Linked DNA regions of Homo sapiens. The protein of the gene in region 3 purifies or fractionates together with the protein of the main gene of each other region. This does not show direct contact. Each region holds a gene or a part of one and is shown on either strand. Other genes may lie near its edges. The genes, in order: THUMPD3, HEATR5A and PPM1B.

The links.
Region 1: the proteins of PPM1B (region 3) and THUMPD3 purify together in Homo sapiens (co-immunoprecipitation; 3 studies listed by BioGRID and IntAct, with this or other methods). This does not show direct contact.
Region 2: the proteins of PPM1B (region 3) and HEATR5A purify together in Homo sapiens (co-immunoprecipitation; 3 studies listed by BioGRID and IntAct, with this or other methods). This does not show direct contact.

The regions. Positions count from the first base shown.
Region 1 is NC_000003.12:9,373,040-9,376,696, forward strand, and holds part of THUMPD3 (tRNA (guanine(6)-N(2))-methyltransferase THUMP3), read left to right. Parts: intron 1-1,476; coding exon 1,477-1,607; intron 1,608-3,657. UniProt on the Homo sapiens protein: Catalytic subunit of the THUMPD3-TRM112 methyltransferase complex, that specifically mediates the S-adenosyl-L-methionine-dependent N(2)-methylation of guanosine nucleotide at position 6 (m2G6) in tRNAs.
Region 2 is NC_000014.9:31,323,050-31,326,706, forward strand, and holds part of HEATR5A (HEAT repeat-containing protein 5A), read right to left. Parts: intron 3,294-3,657; coding exon 3,114-3,293; intron 756-3,113; coding exon 516-755; intron 1-515.
Region 3 is NC_000002.12:44,199,758-44,203,414, forward strand, and holds part of PPM1B (protein phosphatase 1B), read left to right. Parts: intron 1-1,428; 5' UTR 1,429-1,442; coding exon 1,443-2,288; intron 2,289-3,657.

The DNA.
Region 1 (3,657 bases), on a different chromosome or scaffold from region 3:
AATTTGAGACCAGCCTGGGCAAAATAGTGAGACCCTGTCTCCACTAAAAATAAAATAAATATTTTAAAAAATAAAATGAATAGGTTAACCAGAACAGTGATGTCTAAAAGTTAGCAAGGTGATTCAGAGGAGTTTCTGGAGCCGTGCTGCATTGGTTTAAATCCCAGAGGAGGCTGGGTGTGGTGACACACACCTGTAATCCCAGCACTTTGGGAGGTCAAGATTGGAGGATTGTTTCAGGCCAGGAGTTCTAGACCAGCCTAGGCGACATAGGGAGACCCTGTCTCTACAAAAAATAAAAAAAAAATTAGCTGAGTATGATGACAGACACCTATAGTCCCAGGTACTTGGGAGGCTGAAGTAAGAGATTGCTTGAGCCCAGGAAGTCCAGGCCACAGTGATCTGTGATCATGCCACTGCACTCAATCCTGGGCGACAGAGTGAGACCCTGTCTCAAAAAGGGAATTCCTGAGGAGCTGTCTTTGTGCCTCAGTATCCTCATTTATAAAGGGAATAATACCTAGCTTAGGGGATGTGAATATGAGATGAGGCCATGTATGTAAAATGTGTAGAATAGTGCTTTGCATTAGGAAGTGCTGTATGAGTATCAGCTGTGCTTCTGCTGTGGTTAAGCTCAGGAAGTCTTTCAGTGAAAGATTGGGGAACATTTTGGTTTAGTTTAGTTCACTTTTGAGACAGGGTCTCGCTGTATCACCCAGACTGGAGTGCAGTGGTGCAATCATGGCTCACTAAAGCCTTGACCTCCCAGGCTCAGGCTGTCCTCCCACCTCAGCCTCCCGAGTAGCTGGGACTGTGGGCCTGTGCCACTGCACTCAGTGTAATAAGACTTTTTATTTGAGACTTTACCAATTTTTAAAACTTTTTTGTTGAGATACACTTTGCACCCCTTAAGTACACAAATCTTAAGTTTTCAGTAAGTTTTTACTTATATACACGATGTGTAAACAGCATCCAGATAGAGATACAAACTATTTCCAGTACCTCGGGCTCCCCTTGCCCTTTCCCAGTCAGTACCCACTCAAGGCAATCACTAATCTGACTGCTACCACCAAAAATTCGTTTTGCCAATTTTTGAACTTCATATAAATGAAATCATATAGTATATAGTTTTTTTCGTTCATTTTAATATCTATTATTTTCTTTTAATTCACTATGTTTATTGGCTACAACCAGATTTCACCCCAATTTTTATAACACAAACATATTTTGAAGGCTTAGAGGTTTTTTAATATGTATTTTTTAAATGTCTTAACTTTTTAGACAGTTCTGGGCTGTGGTGCGCTATGCCAATCAGGTGTCTGCACTAAGTTTGGCATCAATATGGTGACCTCCCAGGAGTAGGGGACCAACAGGTTGCCTAAGGAGGGGTGAACCGGCCCAGGTCAGAAAAGTCTTATTACTAAGCGCAGTTTGAACAATCCTAAAACTATTTTGTCTTGTTCCACTTTGCTATAGGTTCTTTTGAACATCCATGATAATGAAGTCATTGTGGGCATTGCATTGACTGAAGAGAGTCTCCACCGAAGAAATATAACACATTTTGGACCTACAACTCTTAGATCAACTCTTGCCTATGGGATGCTCAGGTAAGAAAATGAGTTTGCCATCCAGCTTAAAGTGGCACCTTGGTTTGAATGTTCCCTTCAAAATACTGATTTGTGTGTATGTGTGTTTGAGGTACTGTGTTGGAATAGAGTGGATAAAGAATAGAATGGAAAGCTAATGATCTATTTCTTTCCCTTCTATCCAATATTGACTCCTTGTGATCTGAAAATACTGCTTAATAGGTGGCTCAGTTTTCTTTATTTCTTTTTTTGAGACAAAGTCTCACTCTGTCGCCCAGACTGGACTGCAGTGGCGAGATCTCAGCTCACTGTAACCTCTGCCTCCCGGGTTCAAGCGATTCTCCTGTCTCAGCCGAATAGCTGGGATTACAGGTGCCTGCCACCACGCCCAGATAATTTTTGTATTTTTTTAATAGAGACGACATTTCACTATGTTGGCGAGGCTGGTCTCAAATACCTGACCTCAGGTGATCCACCCGCCTCGGCCTCCCAAAGTGCTGGGATTACAGGTGTAAGCCACCGCGCCCGGTTTTCTTGATTTTAAAATGAGAGTAATAGTTTTCACCTGCCTCTTGAATGAGGTTACCACATTTCTGTTTAGCAAGGATATGTGTGTTGGGAGATAAGAGTAAATTTTGCTGTTTCATTTCTGTGCAGTGAAAAAGATGAAAGCAGAGATTTTTATGTGTATAACGTGTAAATGAACAGAAAGAGCTTTTACTTATATTTTTAAGCTTTATACTCACAGCAACTCAGGAATCATCCTAGAATTTTTTGCTTTTCAGAGTACACGACCTATCTTTCCTTCTCCTTTGCCCTTCTCTCTTTTATTGGGTGCTTCTTTCCACCACTTGAAAATGTTTATTTTCTCTAAAGCTTCTGTTTTCCAGATGGCAAAATGGATTTGATGTGAGACTTAAAGGATTATTAGTGAGGATTAAATGCTGAAGCATATGCAAAATACCTATTATATACAGTGCCTGGTATGTCCTGGTAGTTAAGTCCAGTCATGCATCACTTAATGACAGGGATACATTCTGAAAAATGTGTCATCACGCAATTTCATCATTGTGCGAACCTCATGGAGTGTACCTACACAAATCTAGATGGTGTAGCCTACTACACACCTGGGCTATGTGGTATCTCCTATTGCTCCTAGGCTACAAACCTGTACAGCATGTTATTGTACTGAATATTGTAGTCAGTTGTAACGCAGTGGTATTTGTGTATCTAAACATAGAAAGGATAGGGCAAAATATGGTATTATAATTACTGCATTCATATATTTGGTCCACCATTGATTGGAAGATTGTCATGCAGTACACGACTGTATTCCTTCTCTTCCAATCTTTTATCTTCCTAACATATTAATTCAATGACGATAATAGAAAATTGGGCCCATTTGATAAAGGAAAATCTTCTAGTCTTCATTAATTTAACAAATATGCATTATCTACTGCCAGGCATATGGTAGAAACCAGGGATACAGAGAGGGTGTTATTTTGGGTGCAAATATTTAAAACCTAAGTAATCAAGTTTAGGATAAAAAAGTGATAATTGTGCCAGAGAGGGGTTTATTGGAAAGATAAAGAGAAATCTTGGGGATTCTACAGAAAAACTGAATGTTGGTTCTCAAGAAGGGTAGGAACCACATCTTGGAAAACCACCAGAAATGTAGGCAGCCATTTTTATCTCCCCTTAGAGCCTGTGGACTCTTGTCTCTTCTCATCTACATGCTTTCTCATCTAAATTTATGTATTTCCAATTCCAAACGACCAACCCACACTGCCTAGGGCTTTTAGCTCTTTGTTCCAAATTCCTGGAAGAGAGGATCTGATGGACATTGTTTTGGTCAGATATTCACCCCTGACCATCAGGAATGGCTTGGAGTACAGGGTGCTTACCCCCTCAAGAGGGTTGCCAAGGATTCTATTGCCATGTGTTGAGGAGTAGGAGCAAGGAGATAGAGCAGGACCAATGTTACAATAAGAACCCACTATTAACCCCCAAGAATCTGTCTTGTGAGGGAGATAAATAGTTATCATACATGCGATAAGTCCCACACCAGCAC
Region 2 (3,657 bases), on a different chromosome or scaffold from region 3:
AAACTGGCCCAAGTTACAAACCAGGAAATAATTTTTGAGAACTAGTAAATGTTCATACTATTTCCCAAGAACCAATTATTTTCTATAAACTTAATGCATTGCACCTGCTCATTAAAGTGAATGCCAATATAAGAAGCTTAACCATTAAAAATGTATTTAAACATGAAGTGATGTGAACACGGCTCACTGCAAGCTCAAACTCCTGGGCTCAAGTGATATTCCTGCCTCAGCCTCCCCAGTAGCTGGAACTATAGGTGCATGCCACCATGCCTTGCTAATTAAAAAAATTTTTTTAATAGAGACAATGTTTCATTGTTGCCCAGGCTGGTTTCAAACTCCTGGGCTCAAGTGATCCTCCTGCCTCAGCCTCCCAAAGTGTTAGGATTACAGGTATGAGCCACTGTGTCTGGCTAGTTTCATTTTAAAAAAATATTTTAATATTTTAAATATTAAAACCATAAGCAGACAGCATTTTTACACATATCATTTGGTGTTTTCATCACTATGTCACTTACTTCTTGAATCTCTTTTTTTCATTTCTTGTGCTAAAGCAATGTCAAAATGTGCACTGTTAGCATTCTCACATTGGTTAATTATCCTACAGACACATTCAGCAGCAAAGACTCTAGTAGCCCATCGGGGATTGGTAAAAGGATGGGATTTTTCATCACGTCTGGTGGTCAGGACTGAGGCATCATCCCCTTTATCTCCTTCTTCTTCTTGCATTGTATCCACACAAGTTACAGCTGTAAAATCTTTTATTAAAGGAGAACATATGTAATTATAATCAACTGAAAGATATATATATATATATCAAAAGGAACAAAAAAATGACTTCAAATTCAGACTAGAATTGCTCAACTATCAATTGCTACTGATCAATCATCTTTTTAATAACATCAAATAATTAGGTCTAATAACTACATACAACTAAACAGCTGTCTAAAGGAGATGCTGTTAAGAACTGTTCCAGGTCAAAATGACCAAGCTGTTAAATTATACTCAAAGTAAAAAACAAACACAATAAAAAATATTTAAAAAAACAAACAAACACAATAGTAGATACTGAAATAATTATCAATCCCCTGCAAGTAGATGGATGTACTTAAGGAGACTCAAAATTCTCGGGTGTGGGTGGGATACATTGGGAAGGCTGTTTTAACACTGGAGCCTTGCATGGATTTCAGGAGGTTCCTGAATCTACTGAAATTGTCTGAAAATATTTTTCTTAGGATAGACTCATTGCTACCATTACAGTATCAAAGGTGTAATGATAGCTGGTCACTGAGTAGTGAATTATCTCCTCTACTTATTAACTGTTACACTTACAAACTGTTTAACAACTGAAAATGGAACTAATGCTATGAAACAAACCAAACTGCTTTTCTTATATTATCCCGTATGTCAATATTTTTTTGCACGTTAGAATACCAAACATGTCACAAATAAAGTTATGGTCAAGTTAACAGAGCCTGGAAGGTGTTTTCCTGAGAAGGTATGGAGCCAAACCTCAGAAGATGAAGAATTAATGGCAAGATAAAATTGAGCAAGCTCAGGGAGTATGAATGCAAAATTTAAAAAAGATAATTGAGACACCAGGAAAATGTAATCAGTCTATGCACACATGTATTTTCTTTTTTTTTTTTTTTTTGAGACAAGATCTTGCTCTGTTACACAATCATGGCTCACTGCAGCCTCGAACACCTGGGCTCAGGCGACATTTTCTTTTAAAGAAGTCCTTGCAATTTCTTGAGTAGTGGGGAACAGAAGAGAAAATTAGAAAAATAAAATATGTAAAGCGTAATAGTTGAAACAGCCAGTGTAAACCATTGGAAGAGGGACCAATAAGAATCAAGATAGTCAGAGCAGAGAATACAAAACATTCCAGGAATTTGGTGTTAACTTTTCTCCTATCACACAATTCAGACATGAGAGCTACATTAAATTCTAAGGCTTGGGCAACTGAGTTGGGAGCACTGAAGTACAGTGGAAGGCTTGTGGATTTTAAAAGTTGTGTAGGCGTAGGACTGAATCTGTCTATGTCTTCAGGCAGGTTACCTCTCCAAGCCTATTTTCTCTTCTATAAAACAGAATAAAATTGTCTATGCATAGAATGGGTTAAAGGCTTAAATCAGATAAATTATATACAGTTCTTGGAAAATAACTGGTTTTTCTCTTCTCTCTTCCTCTCATTTATTTTCTCTCTTACTCCAAGGATACAAATTTTAAAGATTTGAATATACTTTCTCATGAACAATTATCTTGTATTACTAAAGACATTAGGGTAATAACAGTTTTCTAATACTACTTGAAATTAACATTATTGTATGTAGTGAAACTGGCTTGCTCAAAATGTCATAACTTTGTATAACTTTCTCTTATGGTGACTAAGTAATTTCATACGGTGCGAGGGGTGGGGTGGGTATGTATGAACATATGTATGTATGTATGTATGTATGTATGTATGTATGTATGTAGAGACAGGGTTTCACTCTGTTGCCCAGGCTGGAGTGCAGTGGTGTGATCTTGGCTCACTGCAACCTCTGCCTCTCGGGCTCAAGCAATCCTCCCATCTTAGCTTCCCGAGCAGCTGGGACTACAGGTGTGAGCCACCAGGCCCAGCTAATTAAAAAAAAAATTTTTTTTTGTAGAGATGGTGTTTTGCCACGTTGCCCAGGCTGGTCTCAAACTCCTGGACTTGAGCAATCTGCCTGCCTCAGCCTCCCAAAGTGCTGGGATTATAGGGGTAAGCCACCACACCTGGTCTCAAATATTTGTTGTATGTATGAAAAGAAATGATGGGAACAATATACATCAAGTCACACCTTTTAGGGCATAAACAATAACTTTACTTTTTAATTTGTTTTATATAGGAAAGTCATCTAAGACAGCCAAAGGGAAAAAGAGCAGGCTTAAGTATTGGATTTATATTGTTCAAATTACAGAGAATTCTAAAACACTAGAAATACAATCTTCATTTGAAGAAAAGCAACAATCAGACAGTCAGAATCCAGCTAGTTAGACAAGACTGATGAATTCTCAGTGGTAAACAATTTTATGTAAAGTTTCAAATTTCAATTTTATTATTTTAACTGATAATGTCCAATACTTACCAGCTGATGCAGCAAGTACATCTTTACAAAGCTTTAACCACAGGGAGAGTTTTTCCACTGCCATAGATGTAAGCATATAATTTAAAGTCTCTTTGATATCATGGCATAATCTCTCATCTGTCTCCTTGTCTAGTAAGATCAACAATGCCCCCTCAAGGCCAACTTCTCTGATGTTAGCATCTGACAAGAAGAAAATCAATTATCTAAGTAATACAGAAAACAAAACTACCATATCAGAAGCTCACACATTCAGTAGTTATTCAAATAGTAGATAAAAATACATCTTAAAGAACTAGCCCAAATACTGTGCTTTAATCTACTGAGATCCATTTTAGTTCACACTTGAATTTTGGGATTTATGATCCTATATAGCAGTATTTTATGTAATGTCACTGAAAAAAAGTATTCATATGTTATTATTAATATGTTTTCTTAATCAGGTAAAAAGTTTTACCCAATTAGTGTCCAATACTTACAAAATTTTTTTTTCTTTATTCGAGACAGAATTTCACTCTTGTTGCCCAGGCTAGAGTGCAATGGCACG
Region 3 (3,657 bases):
TTCAGGACTCTTTTTCTATAAATACATTTGTAATTTATTAATACAGTATCACATATAACCCAGGAAAATTATAAAACTGGTATGTAACTTATAAATATTTACATATATATATCGAGTGGTTCATCAGATTTTTTTAAATGGCGATATGTAATTTTATTGTAAAGTTCAATAATGATCATACCTGGAAAAAATCTCACAAAGATACGTAGACCCAAATGGAGGTAAATTGATCTAGACCAGTGTCTCTCAAAACTTTAAATCACCAGCATGCTTTTTTGATGATTCCATCTAAGATCTATTGAAAAAAATCCTTAGGTGTGGGAATAGGGCTATGGAGTCTGCATTTTGAGCAGATATAACAGCAAACATTTTATGGTGTTTATTGTGTTTTAAGTGCTGTTTTAAGCACTTTACATTGACTCATTCTTCACAGCAGCCCTATGAGGTATAGGTACAGGTGACTAAGAAATTTGCCCAAGGTCACCTAGTTAGAGTGTAGGGTTAGCATTGTATGTAGAAAACATACCAGAGAATTCTTTTGCATACTTTTGGGAACCATTACTCTAAGTCTAATCTAAGTCATTTGAAATTGGGAAAGCTTTATTCTATAAAATAGTAAAGTTGGGTAGGCGGGGAGAGGGTGATGCATAGTAGTACTTTCCAATTCTAAGGATTTTAAGTCTTTGTCAGTCAACACTGGGTAGCTACTTCATGGATTTTAAGTTCAGCAAAGTGAAGTCCATTTTTTAGCACCATGTTAAAGGTATGTTTTTAACAGAATCAAAGTAATGATAAGGTTTTCAGTTTTATAGATATATAGTAAAAGTGATAAAACCAAATGTGTGTAGAATGGAGATTTTTATGTTTTAATTGAATTTTGGGGTTGTCTTTAGGTTCACTGGGAGGAGAAATCTTGATTTCAATACTTGCTTTTGAAAGTCTTCTAAAGTATATTAGTATACCTTCCTACCTTGATTTATTGAACAAGATGACTCACTGTTTTGAATATTCTCATTGTCCAGTCTTCTGTAAACTTACATGTCGAACCCTAGACTCACCTTGTAAATTAAATCAGAATGAAATTATTAATGAAGTTTTATTTCTTGTTTTTTCCTTTCTCCTAGAACAGTGGTCTCAACGTGGCTGCACATACAAGTCACCAGAGAGGCTTTTAAAAGATGATATCTGTGTCCCATCCCTAGGGATTCTGATTTAATTGGTCTGATTATTCTTACGCGCTAGGGCTGAGAAACCACTGTTCTGTAGGATGTAGGGGAGGAAATTTCTTGGGCTTTTGTTGTTGCTCCCGTAAATTAGGATAATACTAAAAAAAATACTTGAGGTAGGAGTTACTAGACTATAGAGGGAATATTGTACATACATTTTCTGTCAAATTTAAACATTTAACACCTGCATTTTTTATTTCAGATTTATTGCTAAACATGGGTGCATTTTTGGATAAACCCAAAACTGAAAAACATAATGCTCATGGTGCTGGGAATGGTTTACGTTATGGCCTGAGCAGCATGCAAGGATGGAGAGTGGAAATGGAAGATGCACACACAGCTGTTGTAGGTATTCCTCACGGCTTGGAAGACTGGTCATTTTTTGCAGTTTATGATGGTCATGCTGGATCCCGAGTGGCAAATTACTGCTCAACACATTTATTAGAACACATCACTACTAACGAAGACTTTAGGGCAGCTGGAAAATCAGGATCTGCTCTTGAGCTTTCAGTGGAAAATGTTAAGAATGGTATCAGAACTGGATTTTTGAAAATTGATGAATACATGCGTAACTTTTCAGACCTCAGAAACGGGATGGACAGGAGTGGTTCAACTGCAGTGGGAGTTATGATTTCACCTAAGCATATCTACTTTATCAACTGTGGTGATTCACGTGCTGTTCTGTATAGGAATGGACAAGTCTGCTTTTCTACCCAGGATCACAAACCTTGCAATCCAAGGGAAAAGGAGCGAATCCAAAATGCAGGAGGCAGCGTGATGATACAACGTGTTAATGGTTCATTAGCAGTATCTCGTGCTCTGGGGGACTATGATTACAAGTGTGTTGATGGCAAGGGCCCAACAGAACAACTTGTTTCTCCAGAGCCTGAGGTTTATGAAATTTTAAGAGCAGAAGAGGATGAATTTATCATCTTGGCTTGTGATGGGATCTGGGATGTTATGAGTAATGAGGAGCTCTGTGAATATGTTAAATCTAGGCTTGAGGTATCTGATGACCTGGAAAATGTGTGCAATTGGGTAGTGGACACTTGTTTACACAAGGTATGTAAACTTTTTTGTCATTAAAATAACATGTTAATTTTGAAAAGTTACGGTAGGTAAAGTTAAGCTAACTTAAAATTTTAAAACTTTTAATATTTTCACAGAAGCTGTATATTTTGAAGTACTTTACCAGAAATGAAACCATTGTTTTCTTTGCCATCCTTGTTTGTCCCAGCCTTCTAATTTGAAAATTAAGCTTGATAAATTTGAGGCATTTGTTGTCATTTAAGTACTTCATAGCTTGTTGCTGTAGCAAAAGCATTTACACAGAGTGACTTTTTCTTGACATTGGCAGTAACCATCTTATGCCTGATTATGAAGCAGCTTGATAAAATATGTATATAGTAGAATTCTGTACTAGATATTACTAAAAGATCAAGAGCCATGTGAAATATTGGAAGATGTACTAGATGCCTAGCCTGTATAAAATTTAGTCCTGAGCCTCCTAGCAGTGAAGACAAAAACTGAAATAAAAATATGGGTTGTATATTTCTCATTGTCTTCTAAAAGCAGCTCTTATCTGGCAATACAATCTAAAAAGGATTTACATGTGGCTCTCTAAGTAATACATGACTTGGATAGTATCTTTTGTAGAAGATAAAATTCTTTTCATATAGATGTTTTTATTATTTCTGATTAAAAACCAAAGGCTTCTATAAAACATAATCTTGTGAAAAATTCCTGTGGAACACTAAAGTTTATTTAGATTTGTAATTTTGTATGAATCATTGCTTGATACAGTAATAGAAAAAAAGTCCAGAGTAATAGATAATTGGCAATCCTTTGAATATCTTTAAAATACTCAGTTGTTTCAAGTGGGTTTTTGACAGCATCTATATATAATTCAATTAAAATTTGAGTTATCTGGCCAGTGTCTGGAGTGTGTAAGTATTTGACTGAAAAGATACCAAGGTAAAACTGACCTTTAGTTACATGAAATAAATAAAGGGTTTGACTTATTTATTCTGTCTAGATTAGAACCACTGTATCTCCCTACTCCAAAATGTACTGTGGAAGGTATGGGCATAACCAGAAAGTTTTTCAGAAAGGATCTCTGGGTCTCTGGAAATGCCCAGATTTTGGTTAAATACCGATTTCTTTTTAATAGAATGGAAAGAGGCAGTTTTAAAAACAGAAGATTTAAAGGCCGTTCTTGTCAGTGGACAGCCTTTTTCTGAAAGGATTTTAATGATGGTACCTCTAGCTCCTCTGATTTTTATTTTTAACACACTGTATCTTTTTACTTCTGGATGAGTTAAGTAAAGAAGTATTGATGGTTGTCAGTGATCAAATAGTAAGTGGGTCTAAAATTATGTATTTGTCTTTGAACTCTAAATGAAGCAATTCTGACCTGTAGATTTTTGAGACA